Regions from separate parts of the Homo sapiens genome. Here region 1 is linked to region 2. Evidence: fine-mapped expression QTL. A gene starts in region 2. The other region holds a variant in brackets. All regions are shown on one strand. Distances are between the middles of the regions.

Region 1 (5,383 bases), 66 kb before region 2:
TTTTTTTTTTTTTTTTTTTGAGATGGAGTCTTGCTCTGTCACCCAGGCTGGAGTGCAATGGCACTATCTCAGCTCACTGCAACCTTCGCCTCCCAGGTTCAAGCAATTCTCCTGCCTCAACCTCCCCAGTAGCTGGGATTACAGCCACCCACCACCATGCCCGGCTAACTTTTGTATTTTTAGTAGAGATGGGGTTTCGCCATGTTGGCCAAGCTGGTCTCAAACTCCTGACCTCAGGTGATCTGCCCATCTCAGCCTCTCAAAGTGCTGGGATCACAGGCGTGAGCCACCATGTCTGGCCTGATATCCACCATTACTCTCTAATTTACACGTGTACCTGGCTGTTGCTTCAATCTGAGACATTCTGTTTATCCCCTTCCTGCTATGGAGAGCAGGACTCAGCTCACTTGCATCACCACCCTCCCTCCCTCGTCCTACATTTAGTTTCTTCTTTATTGGTTAACTTTGTAATTTTTAGTAAATTTTTTTTTTTTTTAGTTGGAGTTTCGCTCTTGTTGCCCAGGCTGGAGTGCAATGGTGTGATCTTGACTCACTGCAACCTCTGCCTCCTGGGTTCAAACTATTCTTCTGCCTCAGCCTCCCAAGTAGCTGGGATTACAGGCGTGCGCCACCACGCCCGGCTAATTTTGTATTTTCAGTAGAGACGGGATTTCTCCATGTTGGTCAGGCTGGTCTCGAACTCCTGACCTCAGGTGGTCGGCCTACCTCAGCCTCCCAAAGTGCTGGGATTACAGGCGTGAGCCACCATGCCCAGCCTTCAGTTTTATTTCTTATTCCATCAACTAGAGAGCAATCACAGTGAATATCTCCATAATGCTTACTATATGCCAGGCGTCATTTGAAGTACCTTACCCATATCTACTTATTTCAGCCACACAGTATGAAATAAGTAGCTAGTATGGAGAGAGGTTACTACTGTTAGCCCCATTTCAGAGAAAAGGAAACTAGGGCCATTTTGTTATTATTTTAGTGGTTCTCCAAGAAGGAGCGGAGAATACCTGTGTACTCGGTCTGCCACTGAGTTCTAATGGGCAAGGATTGGGAAATGTTCATTCTGGCCTTTGCAGTGAAGTCTCCTGCTGGACAATGAAATATGACAATAAAAAGTAAGGTAACAAAATCTCTCATCTTGGCCGGCACTGGCCAGTTAGCTCAGCTGTGGGTCAGGGGTTCCCAAATGTCTTAAACCAGCTGAATTGGAATCAATGAAAGAGTTTATTAAAATTACACACTTATTAAAATATAATCCTTGGGGTTTGGGCCCAGGAATCTGTATTGTTAACAAGTATGGATCATGGTTTTGAAACCAGTGGGTTACAGGTGGCTTGGCAGTGGCCGTGTTCTAGTCCCTACTCCATTTTCAATACTTTTTCTTGGAGCCTGCACTATGCAAGTGGAAATCCTGACTGTGCCACTCACTAAGGAACCACCTGGAGCGGGCAGCAGACCTCCCACCACGGTGGGATCAGTGATCTTAAGATCAGGATCGAGTTTAAGAGGTAACTCCAGTCCTAGCACTGCACACCTATGGTACTCACCATTATGCTGCAGCCTTTTTTGGCCAAACATCCTAAATAATGTTAGATCTTGGGGATTATCTAGCCAACCTCCTCCTATTTGACAGATAAGTAAACCAAGACCCAAAGAAAAGCAAGTTGCATACAGAACAGGGCTATTATGGACTGAGCCAAGAGCAGAGCCCTTGTCTCCTAACCCCCAGGTCATCTCTTCCTAGAATTGCACTAAGAGGTAGCCACTAGCCATGTGTGGTTATTTCCCTATAAATACATGAAAATTAAATCAAATTAAAAATTCAGTTTCTCAGCCATACTAGCCACATTTGAAGTACTCAAAAGCCCCATGTGGCTTGTGGCTACCACCATATTGGGTGGTGCAGATACAGAACATTTCCACCATTGCAGAAAGCTTTATTGCTCTAGCACTGGGCTAGAACCTGGCCTTTCATTTGAAGGCAGTAGGGAAACTGGATGGTTTTACCAATGTTTTCTTCCCTCAAGCAATTACTGCAGAAGATTAACTACAAGAGAATGTGGTTGTTGTTAAAGTAGCTTAACAACATCATTTTAACAAACTAGAATTATATACACATAAACTGGAAGAACAAAACCACGCAAACCAACTAGGCCACTGAAACTCCTCCCACTAGGCCAAGATGGGTCTTAGATGCCTTATCTAAGAACCAAATCAGATGCACATAAGAGTCCATTTCAAAGCTCTGGCTGGTCTGAAGACTGAAAGGTATAGGGTGCATTTCTTATATCTGGTAGCTTGGAGAGGAGTATAGTTAGGAGAAATAAACCCAAGGAAAGAAGACTGCTCTGCATAATAAAGTATTAACTGTAAGGTGGATGAATGGGTAGAAATTGTTTCTCTTCTTCCTTGTAGATGTATATTGTAATATCTAAGATTATTTGTCCATGGAAGGTGTGTTTGATCCAATAGTTAACCAATGGAAACACTGAAAAATACAAGGCATCTGTTCAGTTCTAGAAGGGAGACCTTAAAAGTGACCAGACTTGGGAGTATCCTTCCCTACCTACTCTGGACTACACAGACATGGAGAAAAGCACTGCATGGAGAAGGATTAGAGGATTAGAGATCACAGCATCATAAAACAGAGGTTTGTTTTGGTGAGGGAAGCATCTGGAAGACCAAGGGCAGAGCTAGGAAGTGTAGTTTCACCCCCAGAGGACCCCTGCACAGGGCTCAGCAGCTCCTGGGGCTCTTCCCTCAGATCATAAAGACAGTCA[G/T]ATGACTATATATACGGGTTCACATTTTCCCTTTGAATTCTCTGTAGCTCTTCCAACCCTTCAGAAAAGTCTTGATATACCTATACAAACTTGTCTAGCAGTGGTTTGGGGAACATGGGGTGGGGCAGTGAGAGGGAGTGTGGGCTGCCCGACAGTTGCTCCCTTGCTGATGTCTTTGTGGAGGGAGCAGTGTGCTGGTGAGGGAACTCTTGTGTGTCCAGGAGTTCCAGATAATGAGCAGATAAAGAACCCACAGTGGAGTGGGGGTGGAAGGCAGATGACTCACAGATATTACAGAGAAAAGCTGAGCCTGGTGGAGGTGGGTAGGACTGACGCTTCTGTCATATAGGTGCGCTCACGTACACACAAATTACCATTAGACAATCAAGGTGAACTTGAACCAAATTGATTTGGATAAGATTTATTGATCAGATTGTTTTAGAAAACCAACAGCAAAACACTGACAAGGTACATAAATACAGATTGGACATTTTAGGGTAAATTCACTGTATTTCCTACTTGCTTGTAGGAAACCGAGTAAAGTGGAAAAGCTGTCCTGATCATATGGCATGCACACCAGACTGCAAAAGGACGTCCACACTATTTAACAGGACTGTGGCAAAATAGCTTTAAAGTAAGGCGAGCATTGTGTATGGCCCAAGCATACCCTGTAGGAAGAGCAAAGCTAGGCTCACCTCTCAGAGACTGTGTCTCAGAAAGAGGCTTCCTTTCTTGCCTAGGTTCTTCCATGAAATTCGTCATTGGCAGGTGCTTTTCCAGGGAGATGCCTGTGCTCTCCCTGTGCAGACTCTGTGCACAAGGAAGTGGCTTTAGAGAGTGTGTTTTCTGATGCCTCCTTTATATTCTAAATGTATAACTAGTAAAACAACAATTACTACCGCTTGGTGAAATTGTTTTTTGTTTTTTTCTGAAAACTGCCTCTGACTCCACCCTGTACACTGACTAAGCAGGGCCCTTAAAAAACTTATAAAAAGTTGTTTTTTTTTTTTTTTTTTTTTCAAATTAAAAACATGAAAATTACACCAAAAAGATGGAACTACTTTTGTAGCACAACTCAGAACTTCTGTTCGTAACACCGGACTAGAGAAGAGGTCGCTTTTGGCTGAATCTAATGACCTTAGAAGGGAAAGGCCATTGCTGGGCAGGATCTGGTGGCAACGCACACGGAAGTCCTAGAACTCTATGAAGCCTACCTCAGGCCCTGCGGGTGCGTCTGGAGTTCCAAGGCATTTGGGGAACCAAAGCAATTTCAGCTAACAGTGACCAGTTTTTAGAATGGAGCTTATGATCAGAGGACCATAAACCCTCATCCACCCTAGAGCTCAATGCCAGAAAAATAAAAAATAATACAAAAAATAAAGGAAAATAGCTTTTTGTGCTATATCAGAATGCTGGCAGGTAGACAATTCAGTAACCTGTGCCACTTTCTAAACATCTGTAAGACCACAAAAAAAAAATGGGTTTTACAGAATACGAAGACCAACACAGTCTTAGAGGATCATTCAACCTTTCCTACATGCCAAGCTGTGTGATTGGAAAATAGAAGAGCCATAGCTCTTGCAAGATTAGAGGAAAAGCAAGTATTTGTCAAGAGCCAAAGAAATGTGTTCAAATAATGGAGTTTCCTCTGTGTCGCACACAGCTTTTCCTTCCCGTAGGTACTAAGAGTTCTTTGGTGGTTAGAGAGATGGCCTGGAGCTCAGGGCAGGAGATGACGCTGAAGAGCTACATCTACTCAGGATTACCACCTGTGGTTCCTAATTTCAGCATTCAACTCTAATTGTTCAGCCTGACTAATTACAGGCAATCAGCTGCTTATATGGTCACTGGTTGTCAGCTCCTACTGATTATTCCTTTTCCTTTTCTACCTACTCATTAACCCCATTCCATGGAAAAACAGGTGCTTACAGGAAAGGATAGGGAGGAAAAAGAAATGTAAATGAATCTATTGTTTGGTAGGAAAGTTGATTCACTGATTATCTATGGATTTCAATGATCTGTGCTTTACTCTTGCTACTGTGGATAACCAAAGGTCACTGTTAACGTATCTTTTGCTTAAAAATGTTAATATGCTTATTATGCTTTAAAATCTAGCTATTTAAGGGCATGAATGGTTTAAAGCAAATTTTTACATCATGTCATTATGGCCCTGAAAAAAGGAGATTCTGCCAATGGAAAGGGTTTTGTTTAGCCCCAGTTAAGATTTCAACCTATTCTGTGTCAGTTTATAGTTTTTCCAGGATGTGGAAAATATTAAATGAAGAAAGCATCATTTTCTTCATTTAATAAAGTATTACATTCCCAGATAAATTAGTATATACATAGGAGAATGGTTAGTGTTAAATACTAGGTTTTAATTCTCCGTTTAGGAAACTCCTTACAGATGGACTTCCTTGTTCTCCGGCAACAAAATGTAAGACATGCAAACATGAGAGAGTACAAAGATGACAGGGAGAAAAAAAATCTCAACTCTAACAAACCTAAGGAACAATGAGTCTCTAAGAGTTGGAGTAAGAAAACATGGACTTGAAAATCCAGCTTTATCATGACATGAGTTGGCTTAAGCCAGC
Region 2 (5,331 bases):
TGGTCTTGCTTTGTTGCCCAGGCTGGCCTTGAACTCCTAGGCTCAAGTGATCCTCCCACCTTGGACTTTCAAAGTGCTGGGGTTACAGATGTGAGCCACCACGACCAGCCGCTATAGTACACTCAAAAAAATAAAAAATTTGGCTGGGCGAGGTGGCTCACGCCTGTAATCCCAGCACTTTGGGAGGCTGAGACAGGCAAATCACCTGAGGTCAGGAGTTCAAGACCAGCCTGGCCAACATGATAAAATCCCGTCTCTACTAAAAATACAAAAACTAGCCTGGCGTGGTGGTGGGCGCCTGTAATTTCAGCTACTCAGGAGGCTGAGGCAGGAGAATTGCTTGAGCCTAGGAAGTGGAGTTGCAGTGAGCCGAGATCGCGACACTGCACTCCAGCCTGGAGGACAGAGTGAGACTCCATCTCAATAAATAAATAAATAAATAAATAAATTTAAAATAAAAGGTTTTATCTCCAAGGCCCGTCAACCAAGCCTAGACATCCTATTCCTCCCCATCACCTAAAATCTTTTAAAATCTATCAAAATGCAAGAAAAGGGAGAGGCTTAAAATGCAATACCTAGCAGAATAAAGAATTGGTATGAAAGAATTTCAAACTACATAATACATTGAGGTATCAGATGTGTCCCAATTTTGAGAATGAGTAAAGGAGCAATGAAGTGTCAGTCAAGAGAAAAGGGAAGCAGAAAAAAGAGACTGATGACCCCGCTTTACAAATTTTCACAGTTTAGACACGTTTATCTTTACCTCCGGATAAATGGCTGTTCTTGGTCTTGTGTGCTAAGGGAATGCAGAAATAGCTCTACACTGAAGCCCCTTAGCAGAAATCATGGCTTCCACTGCCATCACGTGGTTGAAGTGAGGAAGTGCACCAAGCAGGTTCTAGGAACCTAGGAATGCCTACTTGAAGCCCATGGTATAATTAATCCGTGATCAAAGACCTAAAGATTGCGGTAGTAGAGGGCAAACTGGTGACAGTGTTTGCTAAGAGATTCATCTTCTAAGCTGCCAATACACAAAAATCTAAGTTTTTATTATTAATTGGGAGTAAGAAAAAAGATTGCTCCTTTTTTCTTTTTCATGTTAAAGATCGTATATTTAGCAATTCTAGGATGCCCAGTCTGATATTAACGTCTCAAACCCAACTTCTGGTATATTATATGACTACTTACAAATGCCTCGATTTAATGCATATAAATGGGGTAATGTACATTTCTAGCACACATCAACAACCTCATCACGAACATAAGCAATTGTCTCATTAAATGTGCTAAATTCCCTTTGTCATCTTCAATTTAATCAAATAATAATTTTTGACTAGAAGTATAAGGTACAGTCTTAAGCACAATTCATAAAAACCAATTCATCATGTTCTCAAAACTCATCAGCTAAACAAATATATCACTAATATAATCAATATTATTCACAAAAAACACGATGAATAATTAACACATCATTCCTGATAGTTCTTTTCATAGTAAAAATAAGCTTGCCCAGTGGGATATTTGACGTTCTCTGCATTATTTAATTCCCTACCTTCCTTCTACTAGATTGAATATTCAATTACAAACATACCTCTTTAAAATTGTCTACACATACATATCCACTTGATTTTATTTTGTTTTCAAAAGCATCTGAACTCAAGGCTAGGGCACTGTAGACCAAAATGTCAAATAATTGTATTGGGTACATTTTTCCAATTCTCAGTTGTTTTTATATTGTAAACACAGCATAATTGTGTCACTAAGTATATTTTTGATCTTCACTTTCTCCCCTTAAAACCTAGACACCATTATCCTGTCTCTGAACATTCCAAAATATTAATAATCCAACTAGTTTTCCCTAATCCTCTAGGTTCTCTTTCCCATACACTCCCCAGCCAACACTCCCCCACCCCTTTCTTCCGTTTCAGAATGCCTCTTACACACACGCCCCGTGTAGTTTTTACAAAATCACTCCTTGGAATGCGTTTCCTTCTTCTCTCCTTAACTTGGCACCCTTTTTGAAATAATTTCCCACAGCTAGGCGCCAATGTCTTTCATTTACAAGATCAAACTGCGGAAGGGGAAGAGATTGGGAATCGAGTAACCGAAACATTTGGAAATGTCAATGAGACAGTGGCCTCTCCTTTGAAAAGAAAACACAACTCTCAGCACAGAGCTTTCAACAGAGCACAGATACTTTTCTTCGCTGTGCTCCTGTTCCCTCCCTGACCTCAAAGACACCTTCCCTTTTCTCTGATCCCCAGTCCCTCTGCTATGCGTGGGGCCTGCCTTTCCTCCTCCCAAGGAAAAGCAAGCCAGGGAGAAAAAGAAAAGGTAGCAGTCACCTTCCCGCCCGCAAGCGGTCAGGACCCTGTCCCACGACTCACCTGGCAGGTGCGGCCGCCCGGAGAGTTGCACGAAGCGGTTGAGCTGGCCAGTCCCCCGACCCCCGCTGCCCCCACTGCCCCCGCCGGCCCCGCTACCTCCGCCACCAGCGCCGGCGGCGCCTCCTCCCCTCCGGCGGTTCCTGTCCCAGCCCTGGGCGGCCGACATGACCCGCTAACGATTGCCGCAGCCCGGTCCCGTCAGCGCCTGACCCAGCGGAACCAGCGGAGCCTCCTTCCTGGGCTCCTCCAGAGACCCAGGAGACAGGGGAAGGGGGCAGCGCCCGGTCCCACCAGAGACCAATGACTTACCGCCTTGGTGAAAGGCAGCCAATGGTCAGTCGTTTTCTTGGTAGGTGGCGGGAGGCGGAGAGAAACGTGGTAACCATAGCTATGGCTAAAAAAAAAAAAGTAGGGGGAGAGAAAGGCAGAAGCAGCCACTCCTAGCTCTCATCGTCCGCTCTGGGCTGGCCGGCGTCACCCCGACTCCTGCGGGGCCAGGCGGGCCAATCGAAGACCGAGTGTCAGAGGCCGCGCCTGCGGAAAGACTCCCGGGGACGGCCAGTGCCTCAGTCTTGGTTAGGATTCAGGAACTTTTTCCCATAAACATTGCAATCAGACACTGGATATACGCATAATACACATATTTGGGGGCAAGACGGTATTCTGCCAGCTTTTCAGATTGAGATCCCATTCACTGATGGTTGACACACACAAAGGGCTTGCTTGGGGTCCGGGTAGGTGAGGGGACCCAGGGGCGGAGTCAAAGCTAAAATGTAAGAACCAGATATTCCTGGGTTTCATTTGTCTTTCAGTCGGCTTAGCTGCATTTGTCCCTGTATAAGCCACGTCCCAATCAAACAGTTTTAAACCTGGTTAACAAATATGGGAAAATGTTCACTCTCACCTGTAATCTTAGAAATACAAAATAAAACCCCAATGAGAAACCATTTCTGGTTTATTACATCAGTAAAGACTTTTCAAATAACACCTGGCAGTGTGTGGAATGCCAAGAAAAAGGTATTCTCATAGATGGCTGATGGCTCTGTAAATATTTTTGTTCGCTCAAACTCCTTTTGGCTAGTAGAAAATTTTAATCAGCTTGGAAGATATATAATCAAGAGGAAATGTAAAATTAAATAAAAGGCAGCAACGGGTATGGAAGATCAAGATCAAAGAAAATTTTTAATGTGCCGATCAGGAGTTTCTATTGTTCCAAAATTAAACAGAAATTTTGGCTTGAAACTTACTGGGCGCAATGCAGACTGGGAAAACATACTATACACTGATGTTTCTGAATGATAAGGAAAAAGCATATCAAATTCCTCAAGGGAAACAAAACTTTTCAAGGTCCTTAGATGTGACAGATTTTTTTTTCTTTTGCATTAGAAGAACCTTACATGGTTGCAGAGAAAAAAAAGAAACTCTGCTGGAGCTGAGGACAAATACCCTTTGTACCTGGTGTGCAAATTTCTGGTCGCCACTGGCACTGCCTCCTTGTTTTCCTACTTCCAGTCCCTGTAGGCAGAAATGTTTTAGTCACTAGCACCATAGCACGCTGCTTATGAAAATGTTTGAGACTTGAAAAAAAAAAAAGCCTATGGTTCTAAAATATAAAAACCAAAATTAATATATGTTAACTGTTTTTTTTTTTTTTTGAGACGGAGTCTTACTCTGTCGCCGAGACTGGAGTGCAGAGGCATGATCTCGGTTCACTGCAACCTCTGCCTCCCAGGTTCAAACAATTCTCCTGCCTCAGCCTCCCAAGTAGCTGGGATTACAGGCATGTGCCACCACGCTCTGCTAATTATATTTTTAGTAGAGATGGGTTTTCACCATGTTGGTCAGGCTGGTCTCCAACTCCCCATCTCAGGTAATCCACCTGCCTTGGCCTCCCAAAGTGATGGGATTACAGGTGTGAGCTGCTGCGTCTGGCCAGTTTTTTATGTATATAGGCAAAATGCAGTCTTACACATTTTACATGTTTAACCTGTCTAATCCTCACAGAAATCCTATGAAATGCTGTTTTCCCAATTTGCAAAGCAAATTTGTAGAGATAGGGCAGTGTGTGGGGATGAGGGGGTGGTTTTGCCTTGTTGCTCCGGCTAGTCTAGAACTCCTGGCCTCAAGCCATCCTCCTGCCTTGGCCTTCTAAAGCATTGGGTTATAGGCATGAGCACCACGCCCAGCCAAAGTAGATTCTTAAGTAACACTTTTTAATTAATCAACTGGGAGAGATGAAATAAGAAAATAACATATAAAGTTTTGGTTGGGCGCGATGGCTCATGTCTGTAATCCTAACACTTTCTGTAATCCCAACCCTTTGGGAGGCCGAGGTGGGTGGATCACCTGAGGTCAGGGGTTCAAGACCGCCTGGCCAACATGGTGAAACCCGGTCTCTACGAAAAATTCAAAAAAATTAGCCAGGCGTGGTGGTGGGTGCCTGTAATCCCAGCTACTCGGGAGGCTGAGGCACGAGAATTGCTTGAACCCGGGAGGCAGAGGTTGCAGTAAGCCGAGATCGTGCCATTTTCACTCCAGCCTGGGCGACAAAGCAAGACTCCGTCTCAAAAATACATACATACATACATACATACATACATACATACATACATACATACATACAATGGCCGGGTGCGGGGGCTTACGCCTGTAATCCCAGCACTTTGGGAGGCCGAGGGGGGCGGATCACGAGGTCAGGAGAGGGAGACCATCCTGGCTAACACGGTGAAACCCCGTCTCTACTAAAAATATTTAAAAAAAAAAAATTAGTCTGGCGTGGCGGCCCGCGCCTGCAATCCCAGCTACTCTGGAGGCTGAGGCAGGGGAATCGCTTGAACCTGGAAGGCGGAGGTTGCAGTGAGCCAAGATAGCGCCGCGGCACTCCGGCCTGGGCAACAGAGCGAGACTCGTCTCAAAAAAAATAAATAAATAAAAATAAAATAAA

Alleles and levels. Positions count from the first base shown, and alleles are read on the strand shown. Sizes are in standard deviations (SD) of each study's normalised expression.
In carriers of allele T in region 1, the expression in prefrontal cortex of the gene that starts at base 2,663 in region 2 tends to be lower than with G alone (small effect, 0.27 SD a copy in BrainSeq).

What was found. PIP is the estimated chance that this variant, and not a neighbour inherited with it, causes the effect.
Region 1: its variant is the best candidate, but not a certain one, in a credible set for the expression of KLHDC10 in prefrontal cortex (BrainSeq, PIP 0.57).

The regions. Positions count from the first base shown.
Region 1 is chr7:130,133,520-130,138,902 of GRCh38, reverse strand. KLHDC10 (kelch domain containing 10) reads right to left here. Exons shown (of 10, transcript NM_014997.4): 10 at 3,198-5,383. Among named protein-coding and RNA genes, the nearest start is that of LINC03008, 5.5 kb to the left of the region's middle. The variant G/T (reference allele first, on the strand shown) is at 2,793.
Region 2 is chr7:130,067,866-130,073,196 of GRCh38, reverse strand. It overlaps KLHDC10 (kelch domain containing 10), which reads right to left and starts at 2,663. Exons shown (of 10, transcript NM_014997.4): 1 at 2,388-2,663. The coding sequence starts at 2,553. RefSeq lists a silencer at 2,459-2,628 and enhancers at 2,729-2,918, 2,949-3,148.